Linked DNA regions of Homo sapiens: region 2 is linked to region 1. The links come from fine-mapping of genetic effects on gene expression. A gene starts in region 1. The other region holds a variant in brackets. All regions are shown on one strand. Distances are between the middles of the regions.

The links. PIP is the estimated chance that this variant, and not a neighbour inherited with it, causes the effect.
Region 2: its variant is the best candidate, but not a certain one, in a credible set for the expression of ATP13A2 in lung (TOPMed, PIP 0.77).

What each region holds. Positions count from the first base shown.
Region 1 is chr1:17,009,605-17,014,969 of GRCh38, forward strand. It overlaps ATP13A2 (ATPase cation transporting 13A2), which reads right to left and starts at 2,324. Exons shown (of 29, transcript NM_022089.4): 1 at 2,125-2,324. The coding sequence starts at 2,134. RefSeq lists enhancers at 576-655, 1,419-1,468 and a silencer at 1,959-2,488.
Region 2 is chr1:16,986,526-16,991,847 of GRCh38, forward strand. It overlaps ATP13A2 (ATPase cation transporting 13A2), which reads right to left. Exons shown (of 29, transcript NM_022089.4): 20 at 5,209-5,322; 21 at 3,602-3,762; 22 at 3,362-3,478; 23 at 3,166-3,245; 24 at 1,797-1,949; 25 at 1,613-1,709; 26 at 521-744; 27 at 280-431; 28 at 1-107. Among named protein-coding and RNA genes, the nearest start is that of MFAP2, 8.6 kb to the left of the region's middle. The variant G/A (reference allele first, on the strand shown) is at 2,405.

The DNA of each region.
Region 1 (5,365 bases):
GCTGATCTTGAACTCCCGGCCTCATGCTGATCCTCCTACCTCAGCCTCCCAAAGTGCTGGGATTACAGGTGTGAGCCACCACACCCGGCCTCAAGACTCTTTATGAAGAAAAGGTTCTTCAAAAAGAGGGCAGAGTCCCCAGTATGTAAACAGCGGTCCCCCTGGGAAGTTCTTCCTCATGGCAATCGTATGACTGTCACTTCACAATGACACTCTCTCAGTCAACCTTGGCAAAGAGGAAAAGGGGAGTGGAACTTGAGGGAGGAAGTCACAGCTGTGGAAACCTCCAGAGCCCCTCCCTGCAGGGATCAAGCCCAGGGCACTCTCTCCTGCAGTACATCTGTTTATCCCCAGCCACAGCCCAGTCTCCCCAGGGCTTCTGTGGGCTCAGACCAGCCCAGAACAGGCACCCACAGGCTGTGTGGGGGGGCGAGAGCACCTTCATGATGGCATTGCTCTTTTTTTTGAGATGGAGTCTTCCCCCCCCGTTCCCCCCTTCCCCCCTGCCCGTCTCCCAGGCTGGAGTGCAGTGGAGAGATCTCAGCTCACTGCACCCTCCACCTCCCAGGTTCAAGCAATTCTCCTGCCTCAGTTCCTGAAGTAGCTGAGACTACAGGCACATGCCACCACACTCAGCTAATTTTTGTATTTTTAGTAGAGACGGGGTTTCCCCATGTTGGCCAGACTGGTCTTGAACTCCTGACCTCAAGTAATCCGCCTGCCTCAGGCTCCCAAAGTGCTGGGATTACAGGCGTGAGCCACCACGCCTGGCCTGTCATTGCTCTTCTGATGAACAGCAGCTCCCATGGAGTGCTCACCATGCCCTGCGGAAGCCCTTCAGTGTGCTAACTCAATGAAGCTTCACACACAACCCTCTGGGGTAGTGACTATTATTATCCCCATTGTACACCTGGGGAAACTGAGGAACAGCATGTGAATCCCTTGTCCAGGGTCATAGAGCTTGAAAGGGGAGAAGCTGGAAATGAGTGTGTCTGAATGGGCACATTCTTTCCCACAGCCATTCCATGAAAAGTACAGATTAGGATTCCCATTTAAAACGAGGCCCAGAGGAGTAGATTGACAAGCACAAAGTCACACAGCTATGAGGGGCCAAGACTGGACTTGAACCTCGTCTGAGGTCACAGCTCGGGGCAGTGTCACCAGCACTGTGGATCAGAGGGGCTAGAGCCATTTGGGACCTCTTATTTCCTGCGGAAGCCTTGGCTTCCTGCTGGTGACCTGGCAGCGGCCCAGGGCGGCTGCCTCCTCCCTGGCTGTGGTTCCCGGCGGCGGGGAGCTCCTGTCTTCTGCCAGGCTGAGGCGGGAGTGTGTGTGAACCATCTTCCCATCTTTGGATCTGGATTCTAGGGGCTGTCTTTCCTCATTCCTTCCCCTCCCTCGCCGGGGGGTGCACTCTAGGCTGTGGGGCTGGGGGCTGAGTGACAGACACTGAGATGAGACCTTTCTGGATAGGGGAGGAGGACTGGCCCCATTCCCGGCAGGTGGGATTTAAATTAGACCCTGGAGGAGTGGGCGTAGGACATCTGGCCAGGGATGGGTTGCATGGAGGGTGTGGCCCTTGGCCCTGGGTGTGACGGGTTTTCTCTGGGGTCTGAGGCAGGAGGTCAGGAGTGGCGCTGTGGCCCAGGACATCTACCCAGGAAATGGAGTCCCGACTCCCCCAACGCCATTCATTCATTCATTCAGCCCAGAGGGGTTGCCCAGAGGCCCGAGGATGCAGCCGTCTCCCCCACCTGGACATCCGTCACTCGGGGTGGGATCCGATTAAGTGGGCGTGGGGTGGCCTCCCCGTCCCCGCACGGCCCCAGGACCCTCTTGCACAAGCGCCCGGCTTCCAATCCCGCGGCTGAGGGGTGCAGGGGAGGGGAGGGACCGGCTGCGAGCGGCGGCGCCATCCCCAGCCCCGGCGTCTCTGGGAAGAAACCGGGGCCGAGTCCCCGTCAAAAGGGAGGGGACGGGCCAGGATCCCCAACCAGGTCCCGCTTCCTGGGCTCGCGACCCCGCGGTGGGGGGCGTCGCCTCCCCTCTCCCTCCAAGGGGTGACGACAACTGGCGGGCCGGGGACCGCGCCGGGCTCGGGGCCGACCCGGACTCCGCACTCACCTGCGCTCATGCCGGCTCCTCGCGCTCATCGCCGGCCCCGGCGCTGCGGCCCTCGGCCTGGGCCCCGGCGTGCGCAAGGCCCTGGGCGGGGGCGCGGTCCGGACGGCCCGGGGCGAGGGGCGCTGGGCTAGCGCGGGGCTGGAGCAGGGCTGACGCGGGCGGGGCACCTGGGCCACCAGGCTCGGCGCGGCTCCGACACTGCCGCAGTCCCTCCGTGCGCGCCGCAAGCCCCGCCCGGCCCTCTGCGGCCCTCGCAGCGCCCGCGCCGGGGCTGCCGGGACTTGTAGTCCCCGCCTGCTCCTCCGCACACACCGGGGGCGGGGCGACCGGAGACACACACCTCACGGAGGTAGCCCCCGCCAGCACGTCCCAGTGGTTAGGGACTGTGCGTGCTGGTCCAGCTCTCCATGTCTTCCAGGCCGCGCGACCGTGAGCAAGTCACTGATCCTCTCTGGCCCTCTTTTCCCAACCTGTAGGATAGCAATGCCTGCTTCACAGAGAACTGCTGCGAGGATCACACAAGAAAATGCTTGTCAACTGGGCGTGGTGGCGCATGCCTGTAATCCCAGCTACTCGGAGACTAAGCCAGGAGAATCGCTTGAACCCAGGAGGCGGAGGTTGCTGTGAGCCGGGATCATGCCATTGCACTCCAGCATGGGCAAAAAGAGCGAAACTCTGTCTCAAAAAAAAAAAAAAAAGAAAATGCGTATCAAGCACTTGAGACAGTGCCTGGCGCTGCTTGATGAATGCAAAGAAGGAAGACACACCTGCCCAGAGATTCACAGGGTCAGATGTGGGCCCACAGAGACCCAGGGAGAGTCTGCCATGATGCACTGGAGGCCTTGAAATGCCAGAGAAAGAGAAGCCTCACAGCGTGACCTGCAGACACACCTGCACTGGGGGGATTCATGAAGACCCCTGAAAGGCACCAGAGATGTCTTACCTGCGTGCAGCATTTATCCTGCTACCCCATAGTGACCGGCACAGGCATAGTGTTCCCTGTCTCCAGGACCTCTGGACAGAGGAGCTCCAAAGGGGAGAGTGGATCTGTGAGATCCTAGGGCAAACAAGGGAAGGTTCACGTTAGGGCCAAGGATAGACGTGGGCAGGATCACTGGTCATTTGTCCAGTATGAATTTATGGAGTGCCAGCACCACTGTGGGAGCCAGGAACGTGAGAGTGAACAAAACAGAGATGCCCCTGTCCCTGCGGAGACTGCTGTCTACTGGGAAGTAGCCCTAGTCAAGGAAAGGAAAACTCCAACGATCCCTATTGTGGAAGGGGCTGGAAGGAGACACAGCTGTGATGGTGGTGAGGGTGTGGGTAGGGGATAGACCCCAGGAGGGAAAGCAGCACCTGATTCATAGCAAGATCCCAGTGAACATTTGGTACAGGAACACACGTTGGCAGGACTTGCTGGTGGATAGGATGTGGGGGTGCAGGAATGTGTGGAATTCAAGATGCTCCCCAGGGTTTTGGCCTGAGCAGCTGGGTGCCAGTGGAGCCATTTACTCAGCTGGGGCAGGCTGCCCGAGCCAACCAGTTGCGGGTCATTCCTGTTGACCACCTGGGCCATGGGACTGGCTTCCTTGGGTCAGGTGACAAGAGTTCTTTCATCTTCCGGTGACACTTCCAGGGGAGGCAGGCTGCTTAACTTTTCAGAACTCCCATGTCCTCCCCCAGGGCTTAGCTCAATTTCTGGCAGGAACCCAGCCTCCAGGGCAGCAGGAAGGCTGGGTTTGGAAATGGCTAGCCCAGGTGGCCTTGGCAAGAGGCAGTATGGTACAGTGGCAAGGGGCTGGGTTCTGGCATCAGAAAGACATGGATGCATGAGTTGCTTTCTAGCTGTGTGAGCTTTAAAATGTCACTTTCCTTCTCTAAGGCTCTCCTTCCCCTCACCTACAAAATGGAAGGCATGGAGAGGATGAAATGAGATGGCAGGAACTTGGTAGAAGCCAGCTGCTTGCTTTAGATCCTGGCACTGGATTAGCGGCTTCATAAAAGCAGAGGTACTCCAGTCTGGGTGAAAGACTGAGACTCCCTCTAAAATAAATAAATAAATAAATAAATAAATAAATAAATAAATAAAAGCAGAGGGCTTGGGGACTGCATGGGGGACTGCCTTGCAAGGGTGCCCCCTTCATTCTTTTTATTGCTAAGGCTGCCTGGCCTTAAAGGGGCTCTATTCCCTGAGCCAGCTGGGAAGGAGCCGCACCTGCAGCTCGTCCCTTCTCCTTAATGAGGGAGGAGGCCAGAGGAAGCTTCCTTCCAAACCACAGAGCATGTGGGAGGCCTTGCCATCTGCTTGGGGTTACCTTTGGGGAAGTGGCTCTCGGTGTGTGGTCATCGAGGAGGTCTGTGGCCCAGGCTGTCTTCCCGGATAACCGTGTCTGAAATTTCCAGTCCCACGTGGGTGAGAACCGACTGAACAGCTTCCCTTCTAGGCTGTGGCTCTCTTGGGAACCCACGGAGAGGGCGTAATAGGCCTGGTCCCAGTGGCAAAAAGCTTGAGAAATCACTAATTTGGGCGAGTTTATTCCAGAGCATTGCTTTACTTTTCGACTTCTCTAGTTTCACTAGATTTTTGCAACAAAAGAGGATTTTTTTCACCTAGTAACAAACCCTGTTGGTAGGATTATGGCTGTCTAGACACACAGTAAAGTGGGGTTTCAGTTTTTGTTTTTGTTTTTTTTGTTTGTTTGTTTTGAGACAGGGTCTCTCTCTGCTGCCCAGGTTGGAGCACAGTGGCATGATCTCAGCTCACTGCAGCCTCGACCTCCTGGGCTCAAGTGATCCTCCCACCTCGGCTCAAGTGATCCTCCCACCTCAGCCTTCTGTGTACCTGGGACTACAGGTGAGCACTACCACACCCAGCTAATTTTTCTGTTTTTTTTTTTTGTAGAGATGGGGTTTGCCATGTTACCCAGGCTGGTCTCGAACTCCTGTGCTTCAGAGATCCACCTTGGTCTCCCAAAGTGGGATTACAGGAGTGAGCCACTGTGCCTGGCCGAGTTTCAGCACTTTGTATGGTAGTTATCCTGGTGCCAGGAAGGGAAGGGGCCTGAAGAGAATTTGACCAATGGGAGTCCCTCCCTGACCTGAGCAGTGTGACGGGAGAGATGAGAAATAAGCAATATTAGCCTTGCACGGAAAAACCATCCTCCCAACAGGGAGGCCTCTAGCTCTGGCCAGTCATGTCAGAAACATGCCAGCTGTCAACTCAGGGTTGGGAAGGAATTAC
Region 2 (5,322 bases), 23 kb before region 1:
GGTGTCAGTGATGTTCCTCAGCGCCAGCGGCCCCTGCAGGAGGCCGGGGACCAGGACAAGGCCCACCAGGACGGAGCTCAGGAGCGCCAGGGCCACCAGGAAGGGCACTGGGAGCAGGAGAGTCTCTCAGGCAGGAGCCACGCCCCCCCGGCACCCACAGACACACGTGTGCACGCCAGTCTTCCACTCGGCCGGCACCTCTCTCCCATCTGCCTCCCCAGCACCCCAGGGCTCCTCCCTCCCTCCGCCAGCATCTCCCGCCCGCGCCCGCAGTGGCACCATTGGTGTAGAGCGGCCGGCGGAAGGGCGCCCCCTTGGACACGGCTGCAGCCAGGATGAGGTACTGGAAGCTGGACAGAGAGAAGACCACGGTGTTCTCGTAGTTGGGCAGGTTGTCTGGTGCGGCCACTGTCCTGTTCAGAGGCACGAACCTGGGGGTACAGGGATGGGGGTCAGGGAACGAACGTGGGGTGGACAGGGAAGGGGCGGGATGGGGGTGGTCAGTCAGCTCCCTACTCACCATGGCTGGGCCAGGGTCAGGAAGTAGCCCCCTAGCTGCACGCCGGTCACCAGGACCATCTGCAGCAGCAGGCTGCTGAGCACGGGCACGCTGAGCAGCGCCCCCGGTGGCCGCACCCGTCCCAGGACCAGCGCTGGCCCCGTGCGGCTCATGAGCACTGCCACTGTGGTGGTGATGACCAGGTCGATGGCCAGGAACTGCAGGTCACCCAGGTTGGTGTTGATCTGCCACAGGGAAGGGAGGACAGAGGGGAAACTAAGACCTGGCCCTGGCAGCCCCTAGTCTGATAGCAGAGGCCCCACCCCTGCCCCGAAGGAATCTGATGGGTAAGGCATCCCCCAGTCTAATGGGGGCCGTACTCTCCTGCCAGCCCAGCGGAGGAGGTGCCGCTCTTGATGTGAGACAAACCCCTGGTCTGATGGAAAGGGCACCTGTGCTGACCTTGGGGGCCTAAATCTGAGGGGAGGTTTCCCTCCCTGTAACAAACTCCCGGCCCGAAGGGGAGGCTTCGGCTCTGCCTTGCGGAGTCCCTATAGCTACCAGGGCATGCACAGTTCCTGCCCTCAGGGAGCTCCTCGCTTTCAGGCAGACACAGGGACAGACCCAAGTATAAGATGTGCGCCGCCCTGCAGTGTCACCTCATTCGCTGGGGGTGAGCAGGCCATGCCCAGAGCAGGGGAGGGGAGAGCTCCTCCAAGTAGGGTGTGGGAGGTACAGCCAAGGTATGGGGCAAAGCAAGTGCATCTGGGGAAATGGGCAGACCTGTGGGGATGGGGCGGGGGCGAGGGTTTTGGCCCTGCCTCCGTTCAGTCTTCCCTGCAGATTGGGGAGCTCCCAGAGTTGCGGTCAAGATGTTAGCCCATGACAGCTGCTGCCATTTGTGAGGACCTAGTGGGTACCAGGCTCCGTGCCTGGTGTTTTTCTCATCTCCCCCAAGCCTTGCCACCTCTCCAACCACACAGCCGGAGAGTGGCAGGGTCAGGATCTGGGCCCACGTCATCTATTCTGGGACCTGCCAGCTCCAAGGCACAGGGCTGTGTCCCCTCCCTAGTCCTGGGACGGCTCTGGGTACGGAGCTCTGCAGATACTCACCGTGTAGAGGATCAGGACGGAGATGAACTGGGTCAGGCTGTACAGAGCCATGTACTTGAAGACGCTGAACGAAGTGTCAAGGGAACAGCGCCCCTCCCTGGGTGGCAGGGCACGGACATTAGGGGACCCAGGTTGGCTGACCAGCCCTGCTGAGCCCTCACCCACCGGTCCCTGCCTGCCTTACCTGATGACCATGGGCACGCACTCAATACTGGCCATGCTCGAGGTGAAGGGTGAGACCACTGAGGCTTCTGCCTGGGACAGCGAGATGCCGACATCAGCCGCCTTCAGGGCCCCACAGTCATTGGCGCCGTCTCCGCACATGCCCACGCAGTACCTGAAGAGAGGTGTGGACAGGTGTGGCCTGGGGAATTACCCCACCACCCCATGGGTGGGCTGGCAGAATATGATGACAGCTGGGCCCCTAATGCCACATGGTGCCTGGTGTACAGGAGGCGCTCAGTGAATAGATGCAATTATTATTATTATTATCATTATTATTATTATTTTTTGAGACGGAGTTTCACTCTTGTTGCCCAGGCTGGAGTGTAATGGCATGATCTCAGCTCACTGCAACCTCTGCCTCCTGGGCTCAAGTGATTCTCCTGCTTCAGCCTCCCAAGTAGCTGGGATTACAGACGCCCGCCACCACGCCTGGCTAATTTTTTGTATTTTTAGTAGAGATGGGGTTTCACCATGTTGGCCAGGCTGGTCTTAAACTCCTGATCTCAGGTGATCCACCCGCCTCGGCCTCCCAAAGTGCTGGGATTACAGGCATGAGCCACCGTGCCC[G/A]GCCTATTATTTTTTGAGACAGAGTCTCCCTCTGTTGCCCAGGCTAGAGTGCAGTGGCGTGATCTCTGCTCACTACAACCTCCTCTGCTGCCCAAGTGCCCTCAGCCTCTTGAGTAGCTGGGATTACTGGTGTGCGCCACCATGCCCAACTAATTTTTGTATTTTTAGTAGAGACAGGGTTTCACCATGTTGGCCAGGCTGGTCTTGAACTCCTGACCTCAGGTGATCTGCCTGCCTCAGCCTCCCAAAGCGCTGGGATTACTGGCATGAGCCACCGCGCCTGGCCTATTACTATTTTTTGAGACGGAGTCTCGCTCTGTTGCCCAGGCTGAAGTGCAGTGGTGTGATCATGGCTCACTGCAGCCGCAGCCTCCCAGGCTCAAGCAACCCTCCTGCCTCAGCCTCTTGAGTAGCTGGGATGACCGGTGTGTCACCACACCTGGCTAATTTTTAAATTTTTAATAAGAGATGGGGTCTCACTTTGTTGCCCAGGCTGGCCTCAAACTCCTGGGCTCAAGTGATCCTCCCACCTCGGCCACTCAAAGAGGTGGGATTACAGGAATGAGCCACCGCACCCAGCCTACAATTATTATTTTTAGCATGAAAGACCTGGGAGAGCCTGCCTGCTTTTGGTGAGGAGGGGTGACAGCTCTCTGGTGCCTGAGGAGGGAGACAGGGCCCTGGGGAAGGACAGATGAACAGACGAACGGACAAGCTCAGTCTCCGCAGGCCCTTGCCCACACCCTCTGCCGAGCACTCACTGAAGCTTCTGTAGCTCGCACACCAGCTCTGTCTTCTGCTCAGGGGCCATGCGGGCAAAGACAGTGCCCTGGACCAGGACCTGGGAGCACAGGGAGATGGGGGAGGGCTGAGGCACCCACCAGGGAGAGCGAGCCGTGAGGAAGGAGACAGAGCAGGGGAGGCGCAGGGCGGCCAGGGAGCTGGGGGCGGCCCTACCTTGGGCAGCAGCTTGGGGAAGTGCTTCACAATGATACCAAAGGTGGGCCCGCTGAGGGCCAGGTGCCTGGATCGGGGGTCTGGCTCCACGGTGTAGCTTGCAGCCTGGTCAGGATCCTGGGGGCCCAGGAAGCTCAGCTTAGCTCCCCCTGCCCACCCTGGAGAGTTGGGGCCTGGGTCAGGTGACACAGGGGTGGGGTCACTGGGTGAGGTACAGCTGGAACTCTGGGTTAGCCTCACCTTAACGCCATTCACGGCTGTGGGGGACTCCATCGGCAGGAACTCGAGAGAGGCAGGCTGACCCCGCTCAGGGTGGGTGGCGTGGACGATGATCAGATGCTCCTGGGGGGCCACCATGCCACAGCCCCGGGCCACAGTCACCGCTGTCTGCAGGTTGTCCCCTGGGGGTTATGGGGCAAGGTGAGGGTCTGAGGCTATCCGGGGAGGCCATCCTCATCCTGATCCTTACAGATGGGAAAACAGGCTGGATGAAATCCGTCTGCCACCACCAGCCAAGTGAGCTGAGGCAGGTTACCAACATCCCTTTGCCTCAGTTTTCTCATCTGTAGATCCAGGCATTGAAGGGTCTTAGGAGAACCTGGAGCCGTGGGCTGGAGCTCCACATATACTCCTTTTTTTTCTTTTTTTAAGACAAGAGTCTCTCTCTGTGGCCCAGGCTGGAGTGCAGTGGCTTGATCTCGGCTCACTGCAACCTCCTTCCTCCTGGGCTCAAGCAATTCTCCTGCCTCAGCCTCTTGAGTAGCTGGGATTACAGGAGGGTGCGACCACACCAGGCTAATTTTTTTTGCATTTTTAGTAGAGATGGGGTTTCACCATGTTGGCCAGTCTGGTCTTGAACTCCTGGCCTCAGGTGATCCCCCTGCCTCGGCCTCCCGGAGTGCTGGGATTACAGGCACGAGCCATGTGCCCAGGCTACATATACTCCTTACTGCTGTGTGACTCTGCTGCCAAGTGCCCATGAATGTGTGTGCACATATGTGTGTGTGCAGGGGCGGGGAGGACAAGGACACAGACCTCTTAGCTCCTGCTGTCTCACCCTAGCTAGAATCTTTTTTTTTTTGAGACTGGGTCTCTCTCTGTTGCCCAGGCTGGAGTGAAATGGCGTGATCTCAGCTCACTGCAACCTCCACCTCCCGGGTTGAAGTGATTCTCCTGCCTCAGCCTCCCGAGTAGCTGGGATTACAGGCATCCACCACCATACCTGGCTAATTTTTTGTATTTTTAGTAGAGACGGGGTTTCACTATGTTGGCCAGGTTGGTCTCGAACTCCTGACCTCAAGTGATCCGCCCGCGTCGGCCTCCCAAAGTGCTGGGATTACAGGCGTGAGACACTGTGCCCGGCCATTTTCGTATTCTTTGTAGAGACGGAGTTTTGCCATGTTGCCCAGGTTGGTCTTGAACTCCAGGGTTCAAGACATCCTTCTCCTTTGGCCTCCCAAAGTGCTGGGATTACAGGCATGAAGTACCGTGCCCGGCCAGAATCTTTCTCTTCCTGCTCCTTGAGCTTGTCACAGCCTCTGAGGCTGACATCATTATCCCCATTTCTCAGAGGTGCCACCTGGAACCCAGGCTGTCTGACAGCGCACATGGGTTCCTTGGAAGTCACTCCACTCCTCTGAGTCTCAGTTTCCTCATCTGTCAAACAGGGGTGACAATTACCACTTGCGGGGGGGATATTGTGAAGATTCACGAAATGTTTAAAAAGGACCTGGCCTGAAGCAAGGGCCCAAAAAGATGCCCCAAAAAGGAATCCCTGGTGCCCCTCTTCTCTGCCAGGAAGGGGCGGATTCTGCCCTGCTAGCCCGGGCCCCTACATGCCATTGTACCTGTCACCATGACGGCGCGGATGCGGGTCCTTCGCAGAGCCTGGATAACTGGCGTTGTCTGCGGCTTCAGTAGGTTCCTCATGACCAGCAGCCCCAGGAGGCTCAGGTCTCCTT